Linked DNA regions of Homo sapiens: regions 2, 3 and 4 are each linked to region 1. Evidence: fine-mapped expression QTL. A gene starts in region 1. Each other region holds a variant in brackets. All regions are shown on one strand. Distances are between the middles of the regions. Region 1 holds the start of LAMTOR1 (late endosomal/lysosomal adaptor, MAPK and MTOR activator 1). Region 2 overlaps FOLR1-AS1 (FOLR1 antisense RNA 1). Region 3 overlaps RNF121 (ring finger protein 121). Region 4 holds the start of FOLR3 (folate receptor gamma).

Region 1 (8,105 bases):
CCAGCAGCAGCTTCCGCTCCTCTCGGTCCTAGAAGTGGTCATGGGAGAGAAGTCAGCCCCAGGACCCGTAGATCCTGCCTTTCACGGGTGCTACCCTTAGCCCAGCTCTGACCTTAAACACCAAAAATGTTTCTATAAGGAATATCTAAAGTGCCCAGCTTTATGGAATGCCAGATAAGACTCAGTTCCTGCCTATCCTTGGGAGCTCAACTGAGTTGGTGTTCTAGGATAAATGAGAGTGGAACCAGGCAGTCCTAGAGGCCCTGAAAAAATGGACAGAGGCACAAAGCAGGTAGTCAGCAACAGCCCTGGAGCTTGAAAAACATTCTAGGACCTGGCAAAGAAAGGATACTAGAGGCTGGAAGACAGTGGAGCTGAGACATAGCAAGCACTGGGATCTAAAGGGGAAATCAGTGCAAGTCAAGAGCCCAAGAACAGCCTTCCTCATCCCCTAGGACCAGGCCTTCCCCAGCAAAGCTGTTCGCTTCCAAGATGGAAGCCCTGGCGAGTCCAGACAAAGCCCTAGGCCCCAAGAGAAAGCAAGCCCAACCTCTCCATGGCCATTTCTCAAATTATGTCAGGGCAGGAATCCCAGCCCAGCTCTGGGTCACACAGTACAAGTGTGTTCCCTTCTTGAAGGCAGGTCCCTTCGAAGGTGTTCACCCTCCTGTGCTCTGGTGCTCTTTTTGTACGTGACTCCCAGAACCAAACTGAGTGTACATGGTGTATCCTGATCTGAGCAGTACAGCTGTAGCCATGTATGGTGATTCACACCAGTAATCCCAACACTTTGGGAGCCCAAGGCAGAAGGATTGCTTGAGTCCAGGAGTTTGAGACCAGCCTGGGCAACAAAGCAAGACCTCGTCTTTGCAAAAAAAAAAAATTAGCTGGACTTGGTAGTGTGAGCCCTGCAGTCCCACCTACTTGGGAGGCTGAAGTGCAACGACTGTATGAACCCAGGGTTTGAGGCTGCAGTGAGCTAGGACTGTGCCACTGTACTCCAGTCTGGGCAAGAGAGCAAGACCCCATCTCAAAACAAACAACAATGGCGCTGTTCCCTCCCTTGCTAAACCACCTGAGTAGCCCATGTAAATTTTCAGCAGCCCTGTTCCTGCTGGCCTGTGCTGATAATCACAACCCCTGAACTAATGTAAGACCAAACCAAGCTTCCTCATTGGTTTGGTCTTCCTCCTTGTCCTCTTTCAGTCCCCTGTTCTATCTACTGTAATATTTCTGGATTTGACCCTGCCTTGAGACCATCAGCTGCAAATCCTTGCTTGCTGTATCAGCAGTAAATGAGAAAAACAGACCTGCTGGGTATCTATCCAACCCATAAAGAGCAAGAGTGCCCTGAACAAAGCCAAGGATGGGCCCAGGGGGACATCCTGGCTAATGCTGACTCACCAACCTTCAGTGCCAGACTCCTCAATGCTCCCCTCCAGGCCTATCTCAGTTCCTCAGTCTTTCCTGCTGCAGGCCGCAGCTCCCCTGCCCACAACTCCACAACTCTCCTTGTAGAGGGCTACTTCCTCCTGCCCTGCTTAGGGAGGCCCAGCCTTTTCACCTTACTCTTCTTTCTCAAGGCTAGGTTGCCCAAGTGTCCTCAGGCAATTTGATCCAGTTCCCAACAGCAAGAGACAGAAGCTGTGGGCTTTGCCCCATCACCTCTATAAACTCCCAGACACCCTTCCTCCCTAAATACATAGGCTCAGTATTAAAGAGCTAAAAAGACAAAATGTTTGCCAAAGATAAAACTATGTATTTCTAAGGAAAGCTGGCTCCATAATGAGGCCCAAGTTAGCTTCCTATGTGTCTGTCCTCCCAGCTCCACTTCAGACAGATCTTCCTGCAGGACAGGGTAGTCTCTTCCCTATCAGGGGTTCTTCAAGAAGAAGGTTGGCTGATCACTTCTCAGCCTTCAGCTAAGATCAAGTGAACAACAAGGTTATTTTCTTGAAACCCAGACTTAAAGAAGAGGCCATGCTACCTACTTCAGAGCAGACAAACATCACCCCACTCCCAAAGTGCGAGTGGAGCATGGGTTAGGTTTGTCACATCAAGGTTTGTCTCTGCATTAGTGTAACCCAAGAGGCAGGGTTTCACTGTCTACCTTAGCACAGACATAGCAGCCTGCCCGTGACTGGCCACCTGGTCTAGGGGCATGGCTGAGACAGCTTGGCCCCATGGATAAAGTACATGGCCTAGCGTCAGAACACCTGGGCACTAGCACTTCTCAGCTTGGCCAAATCACTTAGCTTCTCTGAACTTCTTCCTCACCTTTCAATAGACATAACCCACACTAATATGACGGATGTCTGGCAAGAGTCAAATTAGATAACTGTGAAGGCCCTTTGTAAACTGTAACGTGTTGTATATTTTTTATTATGATAAAGAGACAGAGATGAGAGTCGGAGAGGGGCCTGCCCAAGAACTCAAAGAGGGACTGTGGGATGGTGGATGGTTATGGCCCTTGCTACATGAGGCCTCAAATCACCCAGCAGTGATTAAGCACCTTCTCTGGGTGTTAGGAACAGAAATGAGAGCCCCCCAAGGAGAAGGTAGAGATTCAGGAGAGCAGCAGGCCCAGCTCTCCCTTCCAAGTAGAAGCTTGTATCCTTTCTCATACGGCATTAATCCTTCTTGACTCATTCCCTGCAAGAGTCCATATTATGCTTTAAGGGACAATTTCCCACTAGGCTACAGCTCTCCCAGTAGGCAGGGTTATTGTTGTCTCTTTCTCAAAAAGGTGGAAGTGAAGTGAGAGGTATTAGGCACAACACATGCCTAACACAGGGCAAAGGAAATATGTGTTCATTGGGTGTATGGAGAATTGAGAACCAGAAGCCACCCTTGCTTCCCATACAAACGACATTTTCCTAGGCTTAAGCCCTTAATCCAAAATACGTTCACTGAAGAACGAACTACTTCCCAAGTACCAGTGATATAATCTATTTTTGTGACCATCTTCCCCATTAGACCGTGAGCTACCTGAAACCTTTCTACTCTCTCAGGTCTACTATATGTTCAAATGTAGAATCCGGGCTTAGAGACGATCAAAAAAGGAGAGTAGACAGCAACTTGAGACTTCATCCTTGAATGTCAGGCCAGGCAGGGCAGGGATTAGAGTGTGGGGAGAAGTGAGAATGCACTAAGAGGAAGAGGGAGAATTTAAAACTGTACAGGTCTCCCCAGCCTAACCCTTTCTCCAAAGGTATCAGATCTACAGCCAAATTCTCAGAATAGGCATGTCTCCAGCTAAAGGAACCCTCAGGCCCCAGGCAGACTGCACTGAGGCAAGCCAAACTCAGAACCAAATGAACTTCCCGCTCCATTTCTCTTTTCCCACAATCTAGCCAAAGCTAAATCCTCTTTGTTGCTTCCCAGACAATTTCCCACATGTCCCGATGTCCTCACTGTATCGATTAAATCCTTCATTGGCCAATTCAAAGGCCACCAACTTCCAGAGTCGTCCCCTGGCCCTAGACTAGCAGCGACCTTCCTTCTGCAACCCCAGGGACTAAGACGATACACGAATTCCTGATTCATCTCAGGACAGACTAACTCAGGGCCTCAGCTTACCCACCCCTAAAATGGATTCGCAAAGCCCACTAATACACAGAAGACACAGGAAGCTGGGGAAGGGAGTGTTTCCCGGGGACCTAGACTGAGGATCCTTGAATCTGAAAAGTTTTGAAGGTAGGAGCAAACGGAAGTGGTGGGAGCGAGCCGGACAGGCGGCTGCCTGCACACCCCGAGGCGGGGACTGTGTAGAAATCTGGGGCTTTAACAGGGGTAGGAGCCCGGCTTGGCGTCTCCTCTGTAATCTGTCCCCTCCAGGCCTCCGTATTCAGTGAGCCCTGCAGTCCGGCTGCCCGTCCTCCGCAGGTTTCTTTCTGGGCCCCATGCCCCAGTGTCTTAGCCCTCATTCCCGAGCCCCGCCTGCCGCGGCCGCACCTGGTCCGAGTCCTCGTTCTCGCTGCTGTAGCAGCACCCCATGGCCGGGGTCGGGCCGGGCGCTCAGGCCGCGCCGAGGAGGGACGGCGTCCGTGAGGAGCCCTTCCGGTCACATGACCCGCGGCGGCCTCCCGCAGGCAACCACCCGCCCCCACCCCCCGTACCCCCTGTCCCGGAGCCGCTTGGCCGCCTCAGTCAATACCCCGGCTTCCGGTCCCGCCCGCTAGCGCGTGATCGTTGTCAACCAATGGGAAGGCGTAACCGTACACGCAAGCACGTGATGCGGGGAAAGGGCGGGGCGGATCACATGACTTCATCTTTCCAGTCTCTAAACTGGCAGTAGTGGCCATCGTGAATTGTGTTATGCGTTCTCGTGGCCACTAGGCCACTTTTCTGGGCCATTGAGCGAACTCGTACCAAATGCCCTCGTATGCCCTTGTGATATACTCTTCTAAATGCCATGCGAGGGGCGACTGGGATCCAGGCCTGATGCTCCAGATCGTACGGTCTGGGTGCACACACACAGATGATCCAGATGACCAGTACCTAGTCGGGGAACACAGAGGGTGTATCGCCCAGCTGGGCTGGGGGTGAATACACAGAGGGTGTATTCTCCACCTGGGCTGGGGATCTGCGACTTACAGGAAGAAGGGACCTTATACTACCTTCACATGCTGACGCGCAGCGGAGATAAATCCTGGTAGAGGAGATAGAAGCCACCTCACTGACCTCTCTGCTTTCAGGCTTTTATCTTTAATTCTGCCTTTTTTAACAGCACCCATTGTAATCGAACGCACAAAGCTGACCATCAGTTCTCTTTTCCTAACCCCCGCTCCATGTCTTCCCTTGGGCCCTGAACACAGGTCCAAGTCCGTCCAAGATTGTATAGTGATCCATTTGTTGTTCATGAGCGTGTGATTGGGTGTTCACCAGCATGTATCAAATGTGCCACCCTCAAATCTTGTTTTGGCACATTACCCGTCTGACATAACAAGAGCCTGACACCTCTCCCACTGCATGTTCTGGGGTGAGGGGTGGAGGGGTCAGCAATGTGTTTCACTGGACATAGAGAAATAATGTAGTTTCCTGATTGATCTACTGGACTTTGTACATGCAGCCTGGTCTGCCTACTGTCTTTACTGTCTTCGAGACTCAGTACAATGTCCTCCTGATTACCTTCTCTGACTCCATTCTCTGGACATGCCCAGCTCCCTATGCTTAATCCTCATCCAGTGTTAATTCATGCATTTATTGAATCAACAAATATTTGCTGAGCGTCTACTATGTGCCACACATTGTTATATCTGGATATGCAGCAGTTCACAAAACAGCCAAAGTCCCTGTAGTCATGGAACATCCAATAGTGATCACACTATATTGTATTCTCTGTTCCTGGGTCAGTCTCACCTACCAAACTTGGGAGTTCCTGGAGCACAGTGACAGGTTCTGACTCTTCCCTGTAGCCCAAGGCATGGCCTTGCTTACAGAAAACTTGCATATCAATGAGCATGTTACAGTCACCCCATCACCTTGGCTCACCCCATGCCCCATCTTCTGATCCAAAGTATTGGAGAAGTCACCAGATCTCATACCTCTTATAACCCCTCAAATCAAGACCCTGAGGTTCTGTAAATCTTTTGAGGTTCCTGAAGGGTAGGAGGCAGCTCAAGCTCGTCCCTGGGGCTGGTAACTTGAACTGCAGGTCTCAGGTGACAGCAGCAGCCTCAGCATGAATAATTGAAAGCCATTCCAGCCTCCTACCTCAGGGTTATCCCCCGCAGCAGGCCCTGGACTCCCCGACCTGTCCTGTGCTCTGGTCCTCCAGCCCAGGTAAGCAGGGCCCTGGATTGTGGGTTCCCAAGCTCACCAGTTCAAGCCCACCGCATCACTCACCTATTCACACCCATCCATACACTCTTTCATTTTTACTCCCCGCCATCACCAGGGGCCTTGCAAGAAGGCCGGCAAGGAGGTCAGATCTGGATGAGGAGGAGAATGGTCCAGGACATGGGAGGAGAGGCCCATTCCCCATAGGTCCCTGGAGAGAAGAGCTGAGTAGAGGGAAAATGTGTGCTGTGTGTTATGTGTATGTACACATTTGTGAAGGGAATTCTGAGACAGCACAGGAGAAGAGGGGAATACAGCGGAGAGGAGATGGGGCTGGAGAATTATTAAAGAATCAAAGACTCCTCCCATCCTCAGGGAAGAGCAGGCAGAGGGAGAGTCCTGGGGTGGGAAAGAGGACATCTCACTCTAACACCCTATGGGGTATTTTGATTGCATTTTACTGAGGCAGGGCACAGTGATAGTGAAGGTGTTTTTGACTGCAAATCTATGCTCTTTTGCTACACAGCAGTGGTCAGAGGAGACCAGGCAGGCAGAGGGTAGGGGTGGGGGAAGATATCCCAGAGGTGAATTAGTGAAAGGGGTCCTGAAGAAGGGGTGACTTCAAGGATAAAGAGAAACAAGTCAGGGGAACAATGTGAAGATGGGACCAGGGGTTGGGACCGGGAAGAGGTGGTTTGGGGCTGGGTGCTGAAAGTAGACAGTATAGAGTCCTTGAAAGTACACAGGCTTGGAATCACACTAACCTGGATTCAAATCCCAGTTCTGCTCTGTGACTCTGGACAAAAGACTTAGCCTTTCTGAGCCGTGGTTTGTGAAATATAAGGATAATAATTGCTACTGGCAAAAGCTACACAAATAGGCAAATTGTGGGTATGGGATTCCCTCCCTACCTCCCTCCACCCCAGGGCCCAGGTAGGGACCATGTCCCCTGCCATTGCATTGGCCTTCCTGCCACTGGTGGTAACATTGCTGGTGCGGTACCGGCACTACTTCCGATTGCTGGTGCGCACGGTCTTGCTGCGAAGCCTCCGAGACTGCCTGTCAGGGCTGCGGATCGAGGAGCGGGCCTTCAGCTACGTGCTCACCCATGCCCTGCCCGGTGACCCTGGTCACATCCTCACCACCCTGGACCACTGGAGCAGCCGCTGCGAGTACTTGAGCCACATGGGGCCTGTCAAAGGTCAGTGTTCCCTAGCCTTCTGCTCCAAGAAGTACCCCCAAGACAGTGAAGGAATATTTGGGATCTGTTGCTGCTTAACTGGATGAATTGGGCAGGTTCTTGATCCTCTTTTAGGGCCTCTTTTTTTTCTCATCTGGAAATGAGGAGCTTGGACTAAGTCATTTATTCAGCAAACATTTATTGCCACCTCTTTTGTATTAGGAATGTGCTAGGTGCCAGGGAGAGGGGTAGAGGCCACAGAGATGAATGAGCCACAAATGCTGGCCTCAAAGGAACCATAATACACAGTGGAATAACCATCTCAGCAGATAACCCATAGCTTTGTAATTATCTGTCTCCACATCTTTCCTCTCCACCATGGAGGCTTCCACATACCATTTAGGGTAGCTGTCTGCCTGGATTTATCTCAATCCCAGCATAAGTGCTTTTAGGGTCTTATTTAAGAAATTCGGCTGTGTGGTGGCTGGTGCCTGTAATCCCAGCACTTTGAGAGGCCGAGGTGGGCAGATTGCTTGAGCTCAGGAGTTTGAGACCGGCTTGGGCAACATGGCAAAAACCCATCTCTACAAAAAATACAAAAATTACCCAGGCATGGTGGCACATGCCTGTGGTCCCAGCTACTTGGGAGGCTGAGGTGGGAGGATTGCTTGAGCCCAGGAGGCTGAGGCTGCAGTGAGCTGTGATTGTGCCACTGCACTCCAGCATGGGTGACAGAGCAAGAACCTGTCTCAAAAAAAAAAAAAAAAAGAAAAAGAAAAGAAAAGAAATTCACTGGCTGGGCATGGTGGCTCATGCCTGTAATCCCAGCACTTTGGGAGGCCAAAGCAGGAGGATCACTTGAGCCCAGGAGTTCGAGACTAGCCTGGGTAACAAAGCAAGACCCCCGTTTCTACAAAAAATTTAAAAATTAGCCGGGTGTGGTGGTGAGTAACTGTGGTTCCAGCTACTGGAAATGCTGAGGTGGGAGGATTGCCTGAGCCTGGGTGGTCAAGGCTGCAGTGAGCCGTGATCATGCTACTGCACTCCAGCCTGGGCAACACAGCAAGACTTGGTCTCAAAAATAAATAAATAAAAGTTCATCCAATTCCAAGATCAGAAATACATTTGATGAGCAATAAAAGGG
Region 2 (8,105 bases), 63 kb after region 1:
CATGATTTCACTTACATGAAATGTGCAGGGAAGGCAAATTTATAGAGGCAGAAAGTAGATTAGTAGTTGCCTGGGGCTGGAAGTGACAACAGGGATTAATTGTAAATGGGCATGAGGGGGGATAAGAATTGAGGGGATGATTCTGAGTTTCTGTGGGGTGTATCCATGAGGGAAAGTATTCTAAGGAAATTGGCATGTGGCTCCATAAAAATCTATCATCTGAGACAAACTCCATTCCCATCATGAACTTTAAAATATTGGTTGGAAGCCAAGCATGGTGGCTCATACCTGTAATTCCAGCACTTTGGGAGGCCAAGGCAGGTAGATCACTTGAGCCAGGGATTCTAGAACAGCTTGGGCAACATGGTGAAACCCCGTCTCTACATAAAAATACAAAAAATTTAGCCCAGTGTGGTGGTCCACGCCTGTAGTCCTAGCTATGCAGGAAGCTGAGATGGGAGGATCTCTTTAGCTCAGGAGGTAGAGGCTGCAGTGGGCTATGACTGTGCCACTGCAGTCCAGCCTGGGTTGATAGAGTGAGACCCTGTCTCAAAAAAAAAAAAAAAAAAAAATAGGAATTGCTGGATGGTAATGTTGTAGGAGTTTCTCCTCAGTTCAGCCAAAGACAGGGTCCTTGTCACCTGGCCATGAAATATTAGGCTTGCAGACACTTTGAAGGGTGAGAAAAATGGAATTTATTGGGCAAAAAAAAAAAGCGGGGAAACGGGGACCCTCGGCAGAGTGAGAGTCCTGCTAGTACACGCTTCCCACCTCTCAGGTTGAATCCCAGGTTCCACCCTGGAAGAGGAGGGGCCAGGCTCCTCAGCACGAACTTCCAGAGGCTCCACCCCAGTGCACATTCCTCCCAGTGTGCGGGTTTGTCAGAGGTTCTCTGGGGACCCCTTTACACTTGGCTGTCTCATTCCCCCCTCTCAAGAAGTACATCAAACTACTGTTAGAACAAGGATAGGGGTGAGGACGAAGACCGATCTAAACTGCTTCCTGCTAACAGGGAGCGGTGTTTTGGGAAACGGCAGTCAGAGCTCCCTCAGAAGCCTATCTAAGGGTTCCCGGCAGAAGGCGCCATCTTCCGAGGCTCCGGTTGCACGACCATTTGGAGTTTGATGGCCTGAAGGCAAGAGGAGAAAAACCAGGTTATTAGAAAACATGTGTTAAAACGAAACAAGGGAGGGTAAGGACAGCTTAAAATCCCTAGGCCTTTTACCAGTTTGCACAGGGAGAGGGAAACCAAAAGCCCGACTGGTAAAAAAAACTTTACCCTTTTGCCAGCATGTCATGCTTGTGGGTTCCCTTCCTCTGAGCCCAATCCTAAGCCAACCAGCTGAAGGTTTGGGAAATTAACTCTTTCCAGTTTGGAGGATGCATCTGAGGGGAGTGTCCTATAGTACAAAGACACAATTACCTATTAGTGAAGAGAAGACAGTGGAGAAGAAAGGAAAAAAAGGTGCTTTTTAAAGGAGTCCCAGGGGTTCAGCATGCATTCAAAAGGGGTACAGAGTGAAGATGAATGGCTACCCATCTAGAAAGAGGGGAGCAGGCATCCCTGTCTCCTATCTCTTTCTAGCAGATACCAGGGGTACATGAGGGAGAGAAGGAAGAGCGTCCTCTTTCCCTCTTCTGTCCTTGCATACCCAAGTCCTGGTGACCTTGGCAGGTGCTGCCATGGGTGCCACAGCAGCTTGCACCCATGAAGCAGGGAGTACCTAGAGAATAGGAATTATCAGCCAGACTCAGTGGCTCACGCCTGTACAACCCAGCACCTTGGGAGGCCGAGGTGGGCAGATCATGATTTCAGGAGTTTGAGACCAGCCTGGCCAACATGGTGAAACCCCGTCTCTACTAAAAATACAAAACTTAGCTGGGTGTGGTGGTGCATGCCTGTAGTCCCAGCTACTCGGGAGGCTGAGGCAGGAGAATCACTTGGTCCCAGGAGGCAAAGGTTGCAGTGAGCCAAGATCACACCACTGCACTCCAGCCTGGGCAACAGAGTAAGACTCCATCTCGGGGAAAAAAAAAGAGAGAATAGGAATTATCCGCTCTTACCTATGTTTCTATACCCCCTACAGTCAGTAGTCTTGGAGTTTCCTAGACCTCATTTATGCTGTGGGGAAAAGCAAGAGAGATCAGATTGTTACTCTGTCTGTGTAGAAAGAAGTAGACATAGGAGACTCCATTTTGTTATGTACTAAGAAAAATTCTTCTGCCTTGAGATTCTGTTAATCTATAACCTTACCCCCAACCCTGTGCTCTCTGAAACATGTGCTGTGTCAACTCAGAGTTGAATGGATTAAGGGCGGTGCAAGATGTGCTTTGTTAAACAGATGCTTGAGGGCAGCATGCTCCTTAAGAGTCATCACCACTCCCTAATCTCAAGTACCCAGGGACACAAAAACTGCGGAAGGCCGCAGGGACCTCTGCCTAGGAAAACCAGATATTGTCCAAGGTTTCTCCCCATGTGATAGTCTGAAATATGGCCTCGTGGGAAGGGAAAGACCTGACCGTCCCCCAGCCCGACACCCGTAAAGGGTCTGTGCTGAGGAGGATTAGTAAAAGAGGAAGGAATGCCTCTTGCAGTTGAGACAAGAGGAAGGCATCTGTCTCCTGCCTGTCCCTGGGCAATGGAATGTCTCGGTATAAAACCCGATTGTATGCTCCATCTACTGAGATAGGGAAAAACCGCCTTAGGGCTGGAGGTGGGACCTGCGGGCAGCAATACTGCTTTGTAAAGCATTGAGATGTTTATGTGTATGCATATCTAAAAGCACAGCACTTAATCCTTTACATTGTCTATGATGCAAAGACCTTTGTTCACGTGTTTGTCTGCTGACCCTCTCCCCACAATTGTCTTGTGACCCTGACACATCCCCCTCTTTGAGAAACACCCACAGATGATCAATAAATACTAAGGGAACTCAGAGGCTGGCGGGATCCTCCATATGCTGAACGCTGGTTCCCAGGGTCCCCTTATTTCTTTCTCTATACTTTGTCTCTGTGTCTTTTTCTTTTCCAAATCTCTCGTCCCACCTTACGAGAAACACCCACAGGTGTGTAGGGGCAACCCACCCCTACATATGCCATGGATACTAGCATGACCTTTATCCATGAAATGGGAGGCTTGGCTTGATTGGCAGGAATTAGCCATGCTCACTTGCACGCACTGTGCCTTTTTTTTTTTTTTTTTTTTTTTTTTTTTTGAGACAGAGTCTCGCTCTGTTGCCAGGCTGAAGTGCAGTGGAGTGAACTCGGCTCACTGCAACCTCCGACTCCCTGGTTCAAGTGATTCTCCTGCCTCAGCCTCCTGAGTAGCTGGGATTACAGGCACGCACCACCATGCCCAGCTAATTTTTGTATTTTTTTTTTCGAGATGGAGTCTTGCTCTGTCGCCCAGTCTGGAGTGCAGTGGCATGATCTCAGCTCACTGCAACCTCCACCTCCCAGTTCAAGCGATTCTCCTGCCTCTACCTCCCAAGTAGCTAGGATTACAGGTGCATGCCACCATGCCTGGCTAATTTTTGTATATTTAGTAGAGACGGGGTTTCACCGTGTTTGCCAGGATGGTCCCGATCTCCTGACCTCATGATCTGCCCGCCTTGGCCTCCCAAAGTGCTGGGATTACAGGTGTGAGCCACTGTGCCCGGCCTTGCACTGTGCCTTTTAACCCCTGTTATCATCTGCCTCTGAATCCCTTAGATCCAGTTTTCTTTCCTGGGGCTTTGACTCAAAGCTTGGAATAGAATTTGAAACAAAAATATGTGTCTAGGAAGGGCTGCATGGACTCCTTATCATAAGCCAAATGCTAAGGAAGGTGAAGCTGCAGAATTGAGTCCTCCTCCAACAAGGGAGAGAAAAAGATGTCTTGTGACATGCCCAGATAATTGGTGGCTATAGTTATGTAAGCTAGGATTTGGGTGCATGGTGCTTGGCTTTGGTTAGCTCTTACTTTCCAAAAAAGGAAACCTCCGATTAATGGGCATCCTATTTATTCCCATCACCTGGCAGGATTTGCAGGATAATTGCTCAGAACTAAAATATTGATCCAGATTTTTACATTACCCATCCTCTCCTTCTTTCTGAGCTGCAGCTGGAGATTGCTGGTTGGTTCACAGGAACAAGGAGTGTTAGCCTAAAAATGTAGGCAAAAACTTAAACACTAATGACTTTAGAATTTATTGACAAATGTATGGTGTTTTGAAACATAATTTCTCTCTCTCCAGTCCTCATTTTTGTTAAAAAAGCAAATTATGGTAGGATTGAGTTGTTTGCAAAATAGACTTTAGTCATATACTTGGCCTGATTATTTGCATAAAGTGCAGCAAGAATAACTATTTCTACATAAGTCTTTTAGATTGGCTTTGATGGAACTCTGTTCTTCAAGGAATTTCAGACAAAACGTTTTAAAACTGAGCCCAGCCATGGATTTGTATCCTCAAATACCTGTAAGTTGGATGATCTTCTCGTGTTAAGGTCCCATGACAAATTTGGAGCTC[C/A]TAGACCTGTTAGAAAGTGACATTCTTGGCCAGGCGTGGTGGCTCACACCTGTAATCCTAGCACCTTGGGAGGCCGAGGTGGGCGGATCACCGGAGGTCAGGAGTTCGAGACCAGCCTGGCCAACATGGTGAAACCCTGTCTCTACTTAAAATACAAAAAATTAGCTGGGTGTGGTGGCAAGTGCCTGTAGTCCCAGCTATTTGGGAAACTGAGGCAGGAGAATCACTTGAACCTGGGAGGCGGAGGTTGCAGTGAGCCGAGATCATGCCACTGCACTCCAGCTTGGCGACAGAGCAAGAGTCTGCCTCAAAAAAAAAAAAAAAAGAATACTCACGGATAATTTCCAAATTCTGGAGAAGCCAGGCAGAGAGAGAGAAAAATATGCTTCAAATTTTGTTCACAGGAGTGTAGCTTACTCTAGTATTAAAGGCCTTAAAGAGTTCAAAATAATTTTCCTTGACTCTGAGAAACAAAACAAGGATCAGCAATATTCCAAGCAAAAGTCAAAAAGGTTGCTTCAGCTTTCTGAGTTCAGTCCATTCAGTTCTTGTTATGCTTGATATTCGTGAACATTTTAGCTCTTCATGAGTCCTGTACATTTTCCTTTATTCCAATATCACAGTCTCCAAAGTTATCAGAAACCTGTATTTGAGAGCACCTGTCAGAGTCCTATAGCTTATTACAAACCAACTTTATTTTTTTTTGAGACAGGATCTTGCTCTGTTGCCCAAGCTGGAATGCAGTGGTGAGATCTTGGCTCACTGCAACCTCCACCTCCTGGATTCAAGCGATTCTCCTGCCCCAACATCCTGAGTAGCTGGGATTACAGGTATGTGCCACCATGCCCGGCTAATTTTTGTATTTTTTTTTTTTTAGTAGAGATGGGGTTTTACCATGTTGACCAGGTTGGTTTTGAACTCCTGACCTCAGGTGATACCCCTGACTTGGCCTTCCAAAGTGCTGGGATTAAAGGTGTGAGCCACTGCACCCAGCCGGATCAGGCACTTTTAACTTGAAAACATGAAGTTCTCTTTCCTAACTTTTTTCTTTCTTTCTTTTTTTTTTTTTTTTCCGAGACAGGATCTCACTCTGTCACCCAGGCTGGAGTGCAGGGATGCCATCACAGCTCACTGCAGCCCTGACCTCCTGGGCTCAAGCAATCCTCCCAGCTCATCCTCCCAAATGGCTGGGACTATAGGCTTAGACCACCATACCCAACTAATTTTTGTATTTTTGTGTGAAGATGAGGTCTCCCTATGTTTCCCAGGCTGGTCTTGATCTCCTGGGCTCAAGCAATCCATCAGCCTTGGCCTCCCAAAGCACTGGGATTATAGGCATGAGCCACCAAGGACGGCCCCCTAATGTTTTTTATATTGGCTAATGAGCTTTAAGTTTATACATACAAGGCATAAAGAAATAACTTTAAAGTTATGTTATTAGATGTACAGTGATATGATTTAGCTCTGTGTCCCCACCCAAGTCTCATCTTGTAGCTCCCATAACTCCCATGTGTTGTGAAAGGGACCTGGTGGGAGATGATTGAATCGTGGAGGTGGGTCTTTCCCGTGCTGTTCTCATGATAATGAATGGGTCTCACAAGATCTGATGGTTTTAAAAACGGGAGTTTCTCTGCACAAGCTCTCTCTTTGCCTGGTGCCATCCACATAAGATGTGACTTGCTTCTCCTTGCCTTCCACCATGATTGTAAGGTCTCCCCAGCCATGTGGAACTGTAAATCCAATAAACCTCTTTCGTAAATTGCCCAGTCTTGCATATGTCTTTATCAGCAGCGTGAAAACAGATGAATACAGTAAATTTGTACTGGGAGTGGGGCATTGCTGAAAAGATACCCAAAAATGTGGAAGCGACTTTGGAACTGGGGAACAGGCAGAGGTTGGAACAGTTTGGAGCGCTCAGATGAAGACAGGAAAATGTGGGAAAGTCTGGAGCTTCCTAGAGACTTGTTGAAGGGCCTTGACCAAAAGCCTGATAGTGATATGGACAATAAGGTCCAGGCTGAGGTGGTCTCAGATGAAGATGAGGAACTTGTTGGGAACTGGAGCAAAGGTAACTCTTGTATGTTTTAGCAAAGAGACTGGCAGCATTTTGTCCCTGCCCTAGAGATTTGCAGAACTTTGAACTCGAGAGAGATGGTTTAGGCTATCTGGTGGAAGAAATTTGTTTATTATTATTATTATTATTATTATTATTATTATTATTTTGAGATAGAGTCTCACTCTGTCACCCAGGCCAGAGGACAGTAGCGTGACCTTGGCTCACTGCAACCTTCGCCTCCTGAGTTCAAGCGTTTCTCATGTCTCGGCCTCCCAAGCAGCTGAGATAACAGGCATGTGCCTCCATGCCTGGCTAATTTTTGTATTTTAGAAGAGACAGGGATTCACCACATTGGCCAGGCTGGTCTCAAACTCCTGACCTCAAATGATCCAACTCAGCCTCCTGAAGTGTTGGAATTACAGGCATGAGCCACCACACCTGGCTGCGGAAGAAATTTCTAAGCTGCAAAGCATTCAAGAGGTGACTTGGGTGTGGTTAAAGGAATTCAGTTTTATAAGGGAAGCAGAGAATAAAGGTTCAGAAAATTTGCAGCCTGACAATGCGATAGAAAAGAAAAGCCAATTTTCTGAGGAGAAATTCAAGCCAGCTGCAGAAATGTGCATAAGTAACAAGAGGAACATTAACCCCCAATACAATGGGGAAAATGTCTCCAGGGCATGTCAGAGGTCTTCTTGGCAGCCCCTCCCATCACAGGCCCAGAGGCCTAGGAGAAATGGTTCCGTGGGCCAGGTCCAGGGTCCCCGTGCTGTATGTAGCCTAGGGACTTGGTGCCTTGTGTCCCAGCTGCTCCAGCCATGGCTGAAAGGGGCCAACATAGAGCTTAGGCCATGGCTGCAGAGGGTGAAAGCCCCAGTCCTTGGCAGCTTCCACGTGGTATTGAGCTTGCAAGTGCACAGAAGTCAAGAATTGGGGTTTGGGAACCTCCACCTAGATTTCAGAAGATGTATGGAAATGCCTGGATGCCCAGGCAGAAGTTTGCTGCAGGGGTGGGGTGCTCATGGAGAACCTCTGCTAGGGCAGGGCGGAAGGGAAATGTGGGGTTGGAGCTCCCACACAGAGTCCTTACTGGGGCACTGCCTAGGGCAGCTGTGAGAAGAGGGCCATTGTCCTCTAGCCCCAAGAATGGTAGATCCACTGACAGCTTGCACTGTTTGCCTGGAAAAGCTGCAGACACTCAATGCCAGCCTGTGAAAGCAGCCGGGAGGGAGGCTGTACACTGAAAAGCCACAGGGGCGGAGCTGCCAGAGACCATGGGAACCCACCTCTTACATTAGTGTGACCTGATATGAGAGATGGAGTCAAAGGAGATCATTTTGGAGCTTTAAGATTTGACTGCCCTGCTGGATTTTGGACTTGCAGGGGCCTGTAGCCCCTCTGTTTTGGCTAATTTCTCCCATTTTGGAGTGGCTGTATTTACCCAATACCTGTACTCCCATTGTATCCAGGAAGTAACTAACTTGCTTTTGATTTTACAGGCTGATAGGCAGAAGTGTCTTGCTTTTTCTTTGCTGAGACTTTGG
Region 3 (8,105 bases), 140 kb before region 1:
GGTCAAGGCTGCAGTGAGTCGTGATCGTGCCATTGCACTCCAGCCTGGAGACAGAGCAAGACTCTGTCTCAAAAAAAAGAAAAAGAAAAAACAGTAATGGTTGAAATTAGGTGGGGAAAATGACACACAGAAAACAAATAGCAAAATGGCAGAAGTTAATTCTTCCTTACCAGTAATCACTTTAAATATAAATGGATTAAATTCTTCCATTAGAAGACAGAAATTGGCAGATTGGTTTTAAAAATCCCCTCATTTATCGATATGCTGTCTATAGTAAATTCACTTTAGGTGGAAAGACACAAGCCAGGAGTGGTGGCACACACTTGTAATCCCACCTATTGAGGAGGCTGAGGTGGGAGAATTGCTTGAGCCAGGGGATTCAGTAAACTCATAAATGAGTGAAAGCCCCCTTGGCATTTCTGTGCTTATATGTAGAAATATTTTTAATTATATAATTTTGGCTAATCTGCAAAGATTTTTTTTTTTTTTTTTTTGAGACAGAGTCTCGCTGTGTCGCCCAGGCGGGAGTGCAGTGGTGCAATCTCTGCTCACTGCAAGCTCCGCCTCCCGGGTTCACGCCATTCTCCTGCCTCGGCTTCCCGCATAGCTGGGACTACAGGTGCCCACCATCACGCCTGACTAATTTTTTTGTATTTTTAGTAGAGACGGGGTTTCACTGTGTTAGCCAGGATGGTCTCGATCTCCTGACCTTGTGATCCGCCTCGGCCTCCCAAAGTGCTGGGATTACAGGCGTGAGCCACCGCGCCCGGCAGATTTTTACAACCTATTCTGAAGAAAGTGAGTATGCATATATGCACTGCAGTAATTTTCAATAAGAACTTTTTCCTTAAGTGTGGAATCCTTTCTTTAAACATTATCTTAAGGAAAAACTCAATCTGGGAAACAGTTAAGAGGCTGCTCTGCTTGATATGAAGGTTGGGTAACCCTAACACCTCTGCTTCCCCCTCTGAAATCTCTAGGACTCATCATAGCACTGTTAGAAAACCACTGATGTGTTATTCATTAGTTAATTCTTAACAGGAGATGTGTCTGTGACTTAATGAGGCCAGTTGTACTAGGAATGTGCAGTTTACTTGTTACTACCACATCCTGTAAACATAATGCTGAATTTTATTGGTGAGAGGATATGCTAACATGATAGCACATCTTACACTGAGAAACTTAAACTCATATCTTTAGAAAATAAGAAAAGAAATCTACCTAGGAGTGGAATTGCTGAGTCATGTGGTAACTCTGTGTTTAATGTTTTGAGGAACTGAGAAATTGTTTTCCACAGAAGCTGCACAATTTTCCATTCTGTCCTAACGTGGGTTGGGTTTTCATTCCTCCACATTCTTATCAAGACTTCTTACTTCTTTCACTCCGTTTTTTTTTAAATTTTATTTATTATAGCTACTTTAGTGGATGTAGATGTCATTGTGGTGTTGATTTGTATTTCCCTAATGACTAATGATGTTGGGCATCTTTTCCTGTGCTTATGGGTCATTTGTATATTTTCCTTAGAGAAATGTTTGTTTAAGTCTTTGCCCAATTTTTGGTTGAATTTTTTGTCTTTTTGTTGAGTTGTTAGAGTACTTTATATAATCTGGATAATAGACCATTATCAGATATATGATTTTAAAATATTTCCTCACATTTTATCGGTTGTCTTGACACTTTATTGATAGTGTCCTTTGATGCATAAACAGTTTTTAATTTTGATGAAGTTCAGTATATCTATTTTTTAATTTTATTGGTTGTGCTTTTAGTGTCATATCTAAGAATCCATTGCCAAGTCCAAGGTCATAGAGATTACTCTTATGTTTTCTTTGAAGAGTTTCATAGTCTTGGCCCGGTGGGGTGGCTCAAGCCTGTAATTCCAGCACTTTGGGAGGCTGAGGTGGGCGGATCACAAGGTCAGGAGTTTGAGACCAGCCTGGCCAACATGGTGAAACCCCGTCTCTAATAAAAATACAAAAATAGCTGGGCGTGGTGGCACGTGCCTGTAATCCCAGCTACTCGGAAGGCTGAGGCAGGAGAATCGCTTGAATCAGGGAGTTGGAGGTTGCAATGAGCCAAGATCGCACCACTGCACCCCAGCCTGATAACAGAGCAAGACTCCTTCCCAAAAAAAAAAGAGTTTTATAGTCTTAGCTCTTACATTTGGAGTTTTGGTCCATTTTGAGTTTTTGTAAATGGTGTGAGATAAGAATCTAAGTTCATTCTTTTGCATGTGGATAGCCAGTTGTCCCAGCATCATTTATTGAAGAGACTTCTTTCTCCATTGGATGGTCGTGGCATGTCACGACCTTGTCAGAAATCAATTGATCAAAGATATGTTGGCTTATTTTTGTACTCTCAGTTTTATTCCGTTGATCTATATGTCTGTTCTTTTGCAGGTACCACATTGTTATGATTACTGTAGCACTGTAGTAAGTTCTGAAATTGGAAAGTATGTTCCTCAACTTTGTTATTATTTTTCAAGATTGTTTCAGCTATTCTGAGTCCTTTGCAATTCCTTATTAATTTTAATATCAACGTTTCCATTTTACAAACAAAATCAGTTGGAATTTTGATAAAGATTGGTTTGATTCTCTAGATTGTTTGGGGAAATGTTTCCATCTTAACAATATTAATCTTCCAGTACCTGAACACAGGATATCTTTTCATTTATTTGGGTCTTTAATCTCTTTCATCAATGTTTTGTAGTTTTCAATGTACAAGTCTTGCACCTCCTTTGTTAAACTTATTCCTAAGTATGTTATTCTTTTTGATGCCATTGTTAATGGAATTTTTAAAAATTTCCTTTTTGAATTATTCATTGCTAATATATAGAATTTCAACTGATCGTTTTGTGTTAGTCTTCCAACTTTGCTGAATTTATTAGCTCTAATAGTTTTTAAAGTTTTTTTTAGGATTTTTTATATATAAGATTGGTCATCTGAGAGTAGAGTTTCACTTCTTCTTTTCCAATTGGATACCTTTTTTTTTCCTGAGACAAGGTCTTATTCTGATTGCCCATACTGGAATGCAGTGGTGCAGTATGGCGATTTCGGCTCACTGCAGCCTCTACTTCTGCAGGCTCAGGTGATCCTCCCACCTCAGACTTCCAAGTAGCTGGGACTACACGCGCACACCACAGCACCAGGCTAATTTTTTGTATTTTTGGTGGAGAGAGGGTTTTGCCAGGTTGCCTAGGCTGGTCTCGCCCTCCTGAACTCAAGCAATCCGCCTGCCTCAGCCTCCCAAAGTGTTGGGATTACAGGCGTGAGCCACCGTGCCTGGTATTATAAGCTGTGTTTTAGTACAAGTTAGCAACCTGTCAGGAATGTTGTGGAGGGGATGTTTGTGATTTTTTATGGGATGGTTGACTGGACTTCTTGAAGTCCTCCCAGTTAGCTCTGAAATCTGTATCAAATTGAATTACCCACAAGAGGTAAAGGCCTGTCTTGTTCTTAGAGGATGAAGCAGACCTGCCTAGAGACAGGATGAGGTTTTCATTCTGCAAAAGTTATGTTTATTTGTTATAAAAAAATTTGAACAATGTAACAGTATGTGACATAGAAATCAAAAGTGTCCCAGAGGGAACCACTGTTAATCAATTTGTTATAGATAGGAAAAATCTGCAAGTGTGTGTTTATAAATTTTTAGATGTTTATGACATCCATTAGGTTCTGCGGCATTTTTCACCTAATACTATCTCTCAAATATCTATCCATATTGGTGGGTATATCATCCTCTTAAACTAATGACTGCATAGTAATTTTTTTTTTTTTTTTTTAAGACAGGGTCTCTGTTGCCCAGGTTGGAGTGCAGTGGTGTGATCTTGGCTCACTGCAACCTCTGCCTCCTGGGCTCAAGGGATCCTCCCACTTCAGCCTTTTGAGTAGTTGGAACTACAGGTGTGAGCCACCATGCCCAGCTCATTTTTGTATTTTTTATAGAGATGGTTTTATGTTGTCCAGGCTGGTCAGGAACTCCTGGGCTGAAGTGATCCATCCACCTCGGCCTCCCAAAGTGCTGGGATT[A/G]TAGGAGTGAGCCACCACGCCTGGCCTGCATAGTATTTTGGAAAATAGATCTCAAATAAAATTTAATTTACCTTTATCGATTGACTTGTTAATTAACAGTTTATCACAGTTGCAAGCAACAATTTAGTAAGCTTCTCATACATAAATTACCTGCATACCTGTGCAAGCAGTTTTATAGAATGCACTCCTAGAAATGAAATTGCCTGGTCAAAAAATATATGTGTTTTAATTATTAGTGGAACTTGCCAAATTGCCCTCCAAGAAAGTTATAGCTATTATAGTTTACAATCCATCAACACAGATTTAACAGAGCTGTTACCCAGTGTTAAAGAAGGTGTAGGGTATAGTCAGTATTTTTAATCTTTGTCAGTGTGATAAGGTGAAAATACCTGATTTTATTAAGTATTTCTCTGATTATTAGTGAAGTTGAGCATGTTTTCATGCTTAGTGGTCATTTGGCTTCTTTCAATTATTTGTTCATATCATTGACTAGATTTATATTTGATACATTTTTTTTGAGACAGAGTTTCCCTCTTGTTGCCCAGGCTGGAGTGCAATGGCACAATCTCAGCTCACCACAACCTCTGCCTCCCAGGTTCAAGTGATTCTCCTGCCTCAGCATCCCGAGTAGCTGGGATTACAGGCGTGCGCCACCATGCCCAGCTAATTTTGTATTTTTAGTAGAGACAGGGTTTCTCCACGTTGGTCAGGCTGGTCTCGAATGCCTGACCTCAGGTGATCCGCTCACCTTGGCCTCCCAAAATGCTGGGATTACAAGTGTGAGCCGCCGTGCCTGGCCTGATATTTCCATTTTTATCGAAGTAATACATACCATAGTTTTAAAAGTCAGATAGTTCTACAAGACTTCAGAAGCAAAACACATTGGTCCCCTGCCCAACTCTGTCAGTCGCTGATTCTTCTGTGGCAACTACTTTTATTAATAACTTTTTTAGTTCATTTCTGATACTTTTTTTTTTTAAGATACAGGATCTCAGTCTGTCACCCAGGCTGGAGGGCAGCAGCTCCATCATAGCTCACTGCAGCCTCAAACACCTGGGCCCAGGCAATCCTCCTGCCTCAGCCTCCCAAGTAGCTAGGACTACAGGTACACACCACCACGCTTGGCTAATATATATATATTTTAATTTTTTGTAGAGTTGGCTCTCACTATATTGCCCAGGCTGGTCTTGAATTCCTGGCCTTAAGTGATCCTCTTGCCTTAGCTTCCCAAAGTGTTGGGATTATAGCATGAGCCACCACAATTGGCCTTGCGTTTTTTAAATAACATGTTTATACTGATGTATAAATTTCTACTTTATTATATTTAAATATAATATTTGTGGGTTTTTTGTTTTTTTTTTTTGAGACGGAATCTCACTCTGTCACCCAGGCCGGACTGCGGACTGCAGAGGCGCAATCTCGGCTCACTGCAAGCTCCGCTTCCCGGGTTCACGCCATTCTCCTGCCTCAGCCTCCCGAGTAGCTGGGACTACAGGCACCCGCCACCGCGCCCGGCTAATTTTTTGTATTTTTAGTAGAGACGGGGTTTCACCTTGTTAGCCAGGATGGTCTCGATCTCCTGACCTCATGATCCACCCGCCTCGGCCTCCCAAAGTGCTGGGATTACAGGCGTGAGCCACCGCGCCCGGCCAATATTTGTGTTTTTTAAATAACATGTTTATACTGATATAAATTTCTACTTTATTATATTTAAATATAATATTTATGTTTTTTAAATAACATGTTTATACTGATGTATAAATTTCTACTTTTAAATATTATATATTGACTTCCTACTTTGGAAGGTAATAATTATGTGGGTTTTTTTTGTTTTTTTTTTTTTTTTTTGAGACGGAGTCTCACTCTGTCACCCAGGCTGGAGTGCAATGGCATGGTCTCGGCTCACTGCAATCTCTGCCTTCTGGGTTCAAGCGATTCTTCTGCCTCAGCCTCCCAAGTAGCTGGGACTACAGGTTCATGCCACCACACCCAGCTAATTTTTGTATTTTTAGTACAAATGTATTTTAGTACAAAATACAATAGTATTTAGTATTTTGTATTTAGTACAAATGTATTTTTGTATTTTTAGTACGTGGTTTCACCATGTTGGCCAGGATAGTCTCGATCTCCTGACCTCGTGATCTGCCCACCTTGGCCTCCCAAAGTGTTGGGATTACAGACATGAGCCACTGTGCCTGGCGGTAATAATTATCTTTTACTGCTATACCTATACCCGTTACATACTACAAACATTTCCTCCTCCCAATTTTTAAATAAATATTCATTGTTTACATTATTAAGTATTATATGTAAGTATTATTCACAAGATGTATTATTCACAGCTTGAGCCATATGATATATTTGGTACATTTTCTTTCCTTTGCTCAGGTTTCTTTTGGAATGTTTCTTACTGATTTGTAAGAGCTCTTTGTAGGTCAGGAATAAGCCTTCTGACATAATTTGCTACGGATATCTTTCCCCAGTTTGTCATTTGATTTTATTTGTAGAATTGGTAGAAAAATTTTTATAGATTAGATTTATGAACGATCTTTTTTTTTTTAAGATGAAGTCCTGCTCTGTCGCCCAGTTTGGAGTGCAGTGGCATGCTCTCGGCTCACTGCAACCTCTGCCCCCGGTTCAAGCGATTCTCCTGCCTCAGCCTCCCAAGTAGCTGGGATTACAGGCTCCTGCCACCATGCCTAGCTAACTCTTTGTATTTTAGTAGAGAAGGGGTTTCACCATGTTGGCCAGGCTGATCTCGAACTCTGGACTTCAAGTGATCAAACTGCCTCGGCCTCGCAAAGTGCTGGGATGACAGGTGTGAGCCACTGCCCCCAGCCCAATTTATGAACGATCTTGTTGGCTAAGTACTCTATTGTTTGCTATTCTGTTTGGATGGCCCATCTTGCTGTTCCTGATTTTCTATCCTGGTTCTTATAAAGTTCTTCTGCCTGCCTAGGCATATTTTAGGTAATAGCCATAGCTACCAATTTTACAATTCTTGTGGACCTCTCATTCTCAAATCTGCTGTAGGTTAAAGGTCAGTTCTAGAGAGGAGAAGCAGAGCATAAATATAGTTGGGACATTACCACCTATGTAATTACGTAGACATAATTAATAACACTAGCTAGCATTTATTGAGTACTGTCTATTTATTTGTTCAGTCAGTAGATATTCGTTGATCCTTTCTAGTCCCACGCTGGGGCTGTGCTCAGTTATATTGTTTCCTTTGTGGAGAAACAACTTTGAAAAACAGTTTCAAACTGTTTTTAAATTAAACTCCCTATGATCTGGGAGTTTAATTCCTAGATATATGCCAAGAGAAGATTTTGGTACATCCTCCTAGGATTTTTCTTTTTTCTTTCTTTCTTTTTTTTTTTTTTTGAGTCAGGCTCTTGCTGTGTTGCCCAGGCTGGAATGCAGTGGCGCGATCTCGGCTCACTGCAACCTCCGCCTCTTGGGTTCAAGTGATTCTCCTGCCTCAGCCTCCCAAGTAGCTGGGATTATGGGTGTCTGCCACCATGCCCGGCTAATTTTTGTATTTTTTAGTAGAGACAGAGTTTCACCATGTTGGTCAGGCTGGTCTCGAACTCCTGACCTCAGGTGATCCACCTGCCTCGGCCTCCCAAAGTGCTGGGATTACAGACGTGAGCCACCGTGCCTGGCCCCTCTTAGGATTTTTCATAGCAACACTATTTGTAGTAGCAAAAACTTGGAAATGACAATACTCACGTAAAGGTGAATGGGTGAGTTAGTTGTGATATATTCACATAATGGAATATAACATATAAAATAATGCATATGACATACTTATAAAAAGACAAAATATAAAATAACTATAGCTACAAATAATGGTAAGGATGAAGCTTAGCAGTATAATATTGAGTGCAAAAGAAGAGTCCTAGAAGACCACTTATAAGTTGACACTTTTTATAGAAAGGTAAAAATAATGGAAACTTAAGTGGTATGTTTTCTTTTTTTTGGCTAAGTTTGTGTTAGGCATAAACGGTATGTTTTAAAATTACGTATATGTGTGATAAAACCATATTTTACTTTATTTTGAGACAGGGTCTTTCT
Region 4 (8,105 bases), 29 kb after region 1:
TTCACAATTCTTTCCCCTTCTCACTCCATCCTTATTCCACTCTCAGCCTTCCTCATCTCAGTAAATAGCCAAGCACTCCTCTCTAATTGCTCAGACCAACACACTCTGGAGTCATCCTAATTCCTCCCTTTCTCTCATGTCCTCCATCTCAGCAAATCCTATCAAAACATCCTTCAAAAGACATGACATTACTCCTCCCTTTTCACCACGTCCACTGCCACCACATAGCCCTGGTTCAAGTCATGGTTGCCTTAAGGCTGGGCCATTCACATAGACATCTGTGTCAATTGTTTGCTTTCCCTTGTCCCTAGAGTCAGATCAGATGCTGAACTGGAAAAAGCAAATAAAGTTTCCATTTCATTCAGAGTAAAATCCCCCATCTTTGCTGAGTCTGAACCACGGGGCCCTGAAGATCTGGCCTGGACCCCACACCTGCCGCTCCCAGCTCACTGCTGGCCACACTGGCCTCCTCCTCGCTGTTTGTTCCTGAAATGCACTGAGTACATTTTTGCTTCAGGGCCTTTGGACCTACGGGTCCCTCTGTCTGGAGCACTCCTTCCTCCATGTTCACATGACTCCCTTCTTACCTCATTATGGTATCAGCCCAAGCATCACCTCCTAGATCTTTCCTGTAGAAGATAGTAGCCCCTGCTTCATCACTCTCTGTCCCCTTAGCCTGCTTCAGTTTTCTTCAGAGCACAATCATCATCTTTATTTGTTTTCTGTCGTCTCTCTCTAACAACCTCCCACCCCCAAACTAGAATGTCAGCTCTATGACAGTAGGGACTTTTTCTTGGTCACTTCTGTAGCTCTAGAACCCAGAACAGCCTAGCACATGGTAGATGCCCAATAACTAATTCTGAGCTTAGTTTTTGAATGAATCCCCACTTCTACCCTCCTGGTCAAGGCACCATCATCCCAGGCCTGGACTTGTGAAACAGCTTTCTAACTGGTCTACCTTGCCCAATTCCAGCCTACACGTAATCCCATCTGAACACACCAAGACTGCCAATTGAACTGTGACATTCCCCTGCTTAAAACTCTTTCACTGTGACCAGTTGTAGAAACAACATTTTGTTTATCCATTTATCCATCCGTGGACACTTGGGTTGCTTTCAACTTTTAGCTATCGTGAATTAATGCTGCTGTGAATATGACTGCACAGATAGCTGTTTGCATCCCTGCTTTCAATTCTTTTGGGTGTGTGCGCACAAGAGGAATTGCTGGATCATATGGTAATTCTATGTTTAATTTTTTTTCACAGCATCTGGACCATTTTACATTCCCCCTCCACTAGATATGTTATTATATACAAAGGTGGACGGCTATACAAGGACATTCCCTACAGCATTGACTATAACAGTGAAATATGAGAAGCCACTTAAATTCAATAGAATAATGAAATAGAATCATATAGATCTATGTACACAGATAAGGGACCATCTATAGTACATTCTGTTAAGTAAAGCAAGCAAAGTGAGCTGGGCACAGTGGCTCATGCCTGTAATTCTAGCACTTTGGGAGGCTGAGGTGGGAGGATCACTTGAGCCCAAGACGTCAAGGCTGCTATGACCTATGATTATGCCACTGCACTCCAGCCTGGGTGACAGAGAGAGACCCTGTCAAAAAGAAAAAGAAAAAAGAAAAGAAATCAAAATGCAAGGGAATTAGGGGTTATTCTTCTTCCTGAGGACTGGTGCCATGGCATCCAGAGAAAGAACATTGGTGGGGATACTGATGAAAAAGAATAAAGTTTGTAGATTAGTTAAAAGTATTCCCTTAATGTTAATTTCCTGATTTTTTAAGTAATTGGGCTTTGGTTTTGTCAGATGCCAACATTTGGGGAAACTGGATGAAAGCATATGGGAAACCTCTTTACTACTTTTGCAATTTTTCTGTTAAGTCTAAAATTATCTCAAAACACTAAGTTAAGAAAATCAAATAAACTTGATGTCTTAAAACAATACCAATTAGGCTGGGCGCAGTGGCTCATGCCTGTAATCCTAGCAATTTGGGAGGCTGAAGTGGGCCGATAACCTGAGGTCGGGAGTTCGAGACCAGCCTGGCCAACATGGTGAATCCCCACCTCTACTGAAACTACAGAAATTAGCCTGGCATAGTGGCATGTGCCTATAATCCCAGCTACCTGGGAGGATGAGGCAGGAGAATCACTGGAACCGGAAGGCAGAGGCTGCAGTGAGCTGAGATCACACCACTGCACTCCAGCCTGGGGGACAGAGCAAGACTCTGTCTCAAAACAAAACAAAACAAAAACACAATACTTATTTACTTATACTTCAAGATTTTGTGAGTTTAATTATACTTCAAGATTTTGTGAGATTTTGCCCAAGAATTTGGGCAAGACTCATGATTGGCCCATCTTGGCCGGGCGTGGTGGCTCACCCCTGTAGTCCCAGTATTTTGGGAGGCCTAGGTTGGAGGATTGTTTGAGCCCAAGAGTTGAAGACCAGCCTGGGCAACATGGCGAAACCTCCTCTCTACAAAAATACAAAAATTAGCTGGGCGTGGTGGTGCGTGCCTGTAGTCCCAGATACTCAGGGAGGTTGAGGCTGCAGTGAGCCATGATGGTGCCACTGCACTCCAGCTGGGGTGACAGAGTGAGACCCTGTCTCCTAAAAATAAAAAATAAGGTAAAATAAAGATTGGCCCATCTACCCTCAACAGTTGCCTGGACTCCCTGGGGCTCAGTGCACCTAGATGCTGGACTCGGATAACCATCTGATCTTTGATGTAGTGGACAGACACTTTGTTCTTGCCATCATCTTTGGTACCTGAGATAGAAAGCCTTAAAGAGAGGCCACGCCCATGATTAAGTTTCAGGTCAAAACAACGAGCAAAAAGGCAACGGCTATAGTTGTAGGTGTAGCAAATCAGTGTGCCTTTTATCTAGAGGCTACTGAAAACCAGACATTCATTAAAGATATTCTGGTCACTTGGATGAAGGCTGGCCTTGGCATTCACCTGAATCTTTAGTAGAGTCTTTAGCACCATTGGCAACTCAGCCAGACCTGGCCTTGGCCACGATAGTGGAGCCTGGGATTGGAGGGCATGAATTTTATGAAGCCTGTAATATCAGAAATTCGTTGGTTGAGGACATACCTCTTTCTTTTTGGACCCTGTGGGCGTAATGCTATTGATACATGTGCAGAGGAGGAATTAATATGACTGTGATTGACAGAATAATTATGAAGTGCAAAGACCTCAGATCTGTGATCAGCTTCCATAGAAGTATTTGCTCAGAAGCTTCTCAGAAACATTCTCATGATTGAAGAAGCCTTGAAGAGCCCGTATTTCTGTCTATGAAATCTCCTGTTTATTGTACTATGAGGACCCATCAGAAAGTAACTGAGGTAGTGCTGATTTCCTGAGCAATTATTCAGTCCACTGTCTCAAATCCATCATGCAGAATGTTCACAGAGGGTAAAGTAAGTTTGACTATTATAACTACTCACTTTTATAAGTGATTTAATTTAAAGATTAATATGATAAGTACTCTGTTTTTCCTGGGAATTTTGTTGTAGAAAGAGTAACTGCTGTGTGGCTAAACTAAGGTTATAAGCCAAATTGTTTCCTCAGAGTTTAAGAAACACAATACTAACTCTCATGGGTTTACTAGTTGTCTGTTGCTGCATAACAAATCATTCCATAATTTTGTGGTGTATTGCTGCAGACAATGTTAAACTAAGTGGATGAAAAGGATATTCACATAGTCTCAGAGTGTCTCCCTACAAGGTAGGATTACTAACAAAGGGAAACTAATAATTATATAGTAAGGAAATCTCCTTAACCCAATAATCACCAGCAATAAGATGCAGCAACCCTCATCATGTACCTCTTGATATGATGCACTGACAAAAGCACCTCTCTTCTCTAATTTTCTTGCCAAAATGCATAAGCTCAAGCTAATTACAGGAAAATATAGACAAACCCAAATTGAGGGACATTCTGCAAAATAACTGAACAGTAATTCTCCAAAAGTGTCAAGGTCATAAAAGACAAAGACATTGAGGAACTGTCACAGATTGGAGGGAGACTAAGGGGACATGACAACTACATGCAACCTGGAATCATGGACTGAATCCTGGGCCAGAGAAAGGACATTGGGGGGGAAACTGGTGTAAAGGGCATAAAGCTTGTAGATTAGTTAACAGTATTGCCTCAATATTAATTTCCTGATTTTTTTAAGAACTGGGCTTTGGTTACATAAGATGCCAATATTTGGGGAAGTTGCATAAAAACATACGGGAAATCTTTTGACGATGTTTTGCAGTTTTTCTGCAAATCTAAAATTATTTCAAAACAAAAAGTTTAAAAATCAAATACACATAGTTGCTTGAAATAGTAACTATTTTATTATATTCCAAGATGTTGTGAGTCAGGAATTTGGCCAAAACTCAGGTGGGCGATTCTTCTGCAAAGACCCCCACAACACATTCAAAGTCACAGGCAGAGGTTGTTGGGGGAGGGCATTGAAAAGAAGAGAAGAGTCATAGGTGGGTGCAATGGAGGGAGGGCAGAGGGCTGCTGACTATGGTGCAGGACTCATCCATAATGGAGCCCTGGGGAGGCAAGGGCTTCATAACTAGACACTGGTCTTGTCACCTCAGACTCACCTGTAGCAGGACCAGATACTGAGGTCAGACTGAAAACACAGGCTCTGCCTCAGGAGAGGCTCTCTACTAGCTGAGTAAATGATGACAGTATTGGAAATGTTCCCAACATCATAATGGGAAAACATCACTTCACACTACATAAGCAATACACAGGGGCAGTGCCGGTCGTCTTCCCAGGTTAGTAGCAGTTCTACTGCCTCCAAGAGTGTTGGAGAAATACAAACCAAGCATTAGGCACTTTTAACTTGAAAACATGAAGTTCTCTTTCCTAACTTTCTTTGTTTCCTTATTTCTTCTTCTTCTTCTT[C/CT]TCCTTCTTCTTCTTCTTCTTCTTCTTCTTCTTCTTCTTCTTCTTCTTCTTCCTCTTCTTCTTCTTCTTCTTCTTTCTTCTTCTTCTCCTTCTCCTTTTCCTTCTTCTTTTTTTGCTGAGACAGGGTCTCACTCTGACAGTACAGTGGTGCCATCACAGCTCACTGCAGCCTCGACCTCCAGGGCTCAAGCAATCCTCCCAGCTCACCCTCCCAAATGGCTGAAACTACAAGCTCGCACCACCATACGTGGCTAATTTTTCTATTTTTGTGTGCAGATGAAGTTTTCCTATGTTGCCCAAGTGGTCTCAAACTCCTGGGATCAAGTGATCCATCCACCTCAACCTCCCAAAACGCTGGGATTACAGGTGTAAGCCACCACACCCAGCCCACTAACTTTTTTATATCGGCTAATGAAATAGTTTTAAGTTTAGACCCTACGAGGCATAAAGAAATAATTTTAGTTATGTTATCAGATGTACAGTAATACTCAAGTGTGCAACTGTGGATAACTTGAGTTCATGAGGTTTTTGTTTTTTTGTCAAAAGAATAAATTTATAGTGAAACTACCCAAAAAAGCAAAGTACAGAACAGTATGCTACCATTTGTGCACAGAAATGGGATATATATGGTGTAACTGCATCGAATTTACTGGATGTATGTCCAGGGACCAGAACTCTTGGTGGCTTCATGTTCATACTTTTGCAAGCACATGTGTAGTATCCTTAACTTAAAGGTACTGTTGTATACATTCTAGTGTTATCAAAATTTACATACATATTATCAAGTCAGAGAGGTCATTCTGTGTCTTAGTATTTTCACTTCATATTTGGTATATTTATGTATGTATACACACATACCTATATGTATTTAAATAAGATTTATAGTCACATGGTCCAAAAATCAAAACAATGTGGAAAGGTTTACAGAGAAAAGTCTCAAGCCTAATCCTGTTCTCTACTGCCAGGTGACCATGTTATTAATTTCTTTTCATACCTTGCCACAGAATTTTCACCTGCAAACACAGATATTCTTTTCTTTTTTAATGACAGAGTCACGTTCTGTTATCCAGGCTGGAGTGCAGTGGCGTGATCTTGGCTCACTGCAAACTCCTCCCGGGTTCAAGTGATTCTCCTGTCTCAGCCTCCTGAGTAGCTGGGATTACAGGCATGTGCCACCACACCCAGCTAATTTTTGTATTTTTAGTACAGATGGGGTTTTATCATATTGACCAGGCTGATGTCGAACTCCTGACCTCAAGTGATCCGCCTGCCTCGGCCTCCCACAGTGCTGGGATTACAGGCGTGAGCCACCACGCCCAGTCAACACAGACATTCTTACTCCTTTTTTACAGAGAATTTATTATTATTATTTTTTACATAGCATTTTTCTGCACCTTTCTTTTTCCACTTAACAATGCACTTGAAGATTTTTCCATATTTGTACATCAGGAGCTTTCTCTTTCTTTGTTACCACATTAAATTCCACTGGGTAGATGTACCATAATTTAACTGGGTCCTTATTGAAAGACAATTGAGCTGTCTCCTAGACAAAGCCTTGTGCACCTTCCCGAACAGAGGGTCTAACCAAGCAGGCAGGATGGGGTTATAAAGTAGGTGGGGAGGTGGGAGAGACTCCACCTTCCCAGGTGGGCTGAGAATGGAGGTAAGGCCCTGCAACAGGACAGAGGGAAAAGTGGGGATGAGAGGTGGGAGGCGAGATAGCGCCCACTGTTCTCGCTCAGCCCCCTCCTCCGTTTGCCGCTGACCTGTTGGCCTCCCCCAACCTCTGAGCCTGCCTCTGCCTAGGTAATTTCCCAAGACCCAGAAGGGGTGAAGGGTGAGGTGTGATTGCCCCCACCTCCTTGCCTCCCGCAGCATCTGCTCCGGGACCATGAACAATAGCTGACAGCTCCATGGCCCTTGCTGTCCCCATCTCAGCTTCCCTGGGCATCTAAACCTCAGCTGCCATGGGGTAGGAGGACAGGCTGAGGAAGCAGAAGCCTGAGGCTGTCTAGAGTCTCACTCCTGCATCAGCAGGCCACCACCTGTGGTTCCTCCTTGTGCAAATTTGAAAAGAATTGCATAAAACACTGGAGAAATCCAAGAGGGGAAGTCCACAAGGGCGGTGGCTCCCTACAAGGTCACAGAGCAAGCTGGTGTCAGAGCCTGGACCTACAGCGCTGTTGGTGGAGGTCCTGCCTCCAGGTAGGGGAAGGGCTCCCTCTCACCTCTACACGCAGCGCATTTCTTGGCTCAGCTGCCCTGTAGGGGATGCAGGGTGGGGACAGCAGAGATCTGGGCCTGGGAGGGAGAGAGTACACAATCACATGGCTGTTGCCCCTGTCTCAGGCCTTGTCTACCTCTGACTGTGGCTCTCTGGCAGGAATAGATGGACATGGCCTGGCAGATGATGCAGCTGCTGCTTCTGGCTTTGGTGACTGCTGCGGGGAGTGCCCAGCCCAGGAGTGCGCGGGCCAGGACGGACCTGCTCAATGTCTGCATGAACGCCAAGCACCACAAGACACAGCCCAGCCCCGAGGACGAGCTGTATGGCCAGGTGAGGGCAGCCTGGTGTAGGACAGCATGCACACAGGTCAGAGGGTGATGGCACGAGCAATGGCAGGTCCAGTGTGGTCAGAACCAAGGGTGCCGCTGCTGACAAGGAAGGGGAGGGGCGGCCAGGGCCACCATGCCACAGGTAAGGCCACTGAGGCAGCTTGGGGAATATGAGCTCCAATTTGAACTCCAGGCTCAGGAGTGTGCTTGTATTTCATTCCTCTGGTCTCCTGGCCTGCTCCCTACAAGGTTTCACATTCCCAGAGGGCTGGGGATGTGCCTAGGGAGAGACTGTGGCGTGGACACAATCTGTGGGTTAAAGCGAAGACAGGACAGCCTGGAAGCCCCATGACATCTGAGTCACTCCCAACATTCCATTTGCTTATTTTTAAATCGGGGTTAAAAAAAAAAAACAAATACATAACATACATTTTCCACTTTAGCCATTTTTAACTGTACGGTTCAGTGGCATTAGGTATGCTCATGTGGTTGTGCAACCATCACCACCATCCATCTCCTGACCTCTTTCATTCTCCAAAACTGAAATGGAAACTCTGTGCCCACCACTTCATTTGCTTTTCAGAACCTTCTAGAGCACATCCTCCTTG

Evidence for each region.
Region 2: its variant is fine-mapped to the expression of LAMTOR1 in whole blood (TOPMed, PIP above 0.99).
Region 3: its variant is fine-mapped to the expression of LAMTOR1 in whole blood (TOPMed, PIP 0.93).
Region 4: its variant is fine-mapped to the expression of LAMTOR1 in whole blood (INTERVAL, PIP above 0.99).

What each region holds. Positions count from the first base shown.
Region 1 is chr11:72,099,229-72,107,333 of GRCh38, forward strand. It overlaps LAMTOR1 (late endosomal/lysosomal adaptor, MAPK and MTOR activator 1), which reads right to left and starts at 4,069. Exons shown (of 5, transcript NM_017907.3): 1 at 3,955-4,069; 2 at 1-28. The coding sequence starts at 3,996. LRTOMT (leucine rich transmembrane and O-methyltransferase domain containing) reads left to right here. Exons shown (of 9, transcript NM_001145310.4): 6 at 5,736-5,784; 7 at 6,828-6,982. It overlaps TOMT (transmembrane O-methyltransferase), which reads left to right and starts at 6,696. Exons shown (of 3, transcript NM_001393500.2): 1 at 6,696-6,982. The coding sequence starts at 6,724. It also overlaps the pseudogene LOC124902837 and a transcript of ANAPC15 not described here. RefSeq lists enhancers at 3,775-3,854, 4,635-5,155 and a silencer at 3,955-4,224.
Region 2 is chr11:72,162,251-72,170,355 of GRCh38, forward strand. It overlaps FOLR1-AS1 (FOLR1 antisense RNA 1), which reads right to left. Exons shown (of 3, transcript NR_199595.1): 3 at 1,072-1,129. Among named protein-coding and RNA genes, the nearest start is that of FOLR1, 26 kb to the right of the region's middle. RefSeq lists an enhancer at 2,476-3,285. The variant C/A (reference allele first, on the strand shown) is at 4,509.
Region 3 is chr11:71,961,492-71,969,596 of GRCh38, forward strand. All of the region lies in intron 3 of RNF121 (ring finger protein 121), which reads left to right. Among named protein-coding and RNA genes, the nearest start is that of IL18BP, 33 kb to the right of the region's middle. RefSeq lists an enhancer at 1,245-1,364. The variant A/G (reference allele first, on the strand shown) is at 4,029.
Region 4 is chr11:72,128,623-72,136,727 of GRCh38, forward strand. It overlaps FOLR3 (folate receptor gamma), which reads left to right and starts at 7,103. Exons shown (of 5, transcript NM_000804.4): 1 at 7,103-7,146; 2 at 7,325-7,498. The coding sequence starts at 7,331. It also overlaps the pseudogene RPEP6. The variant C/CT (reference allele first, on the strand shown) is at 4,942.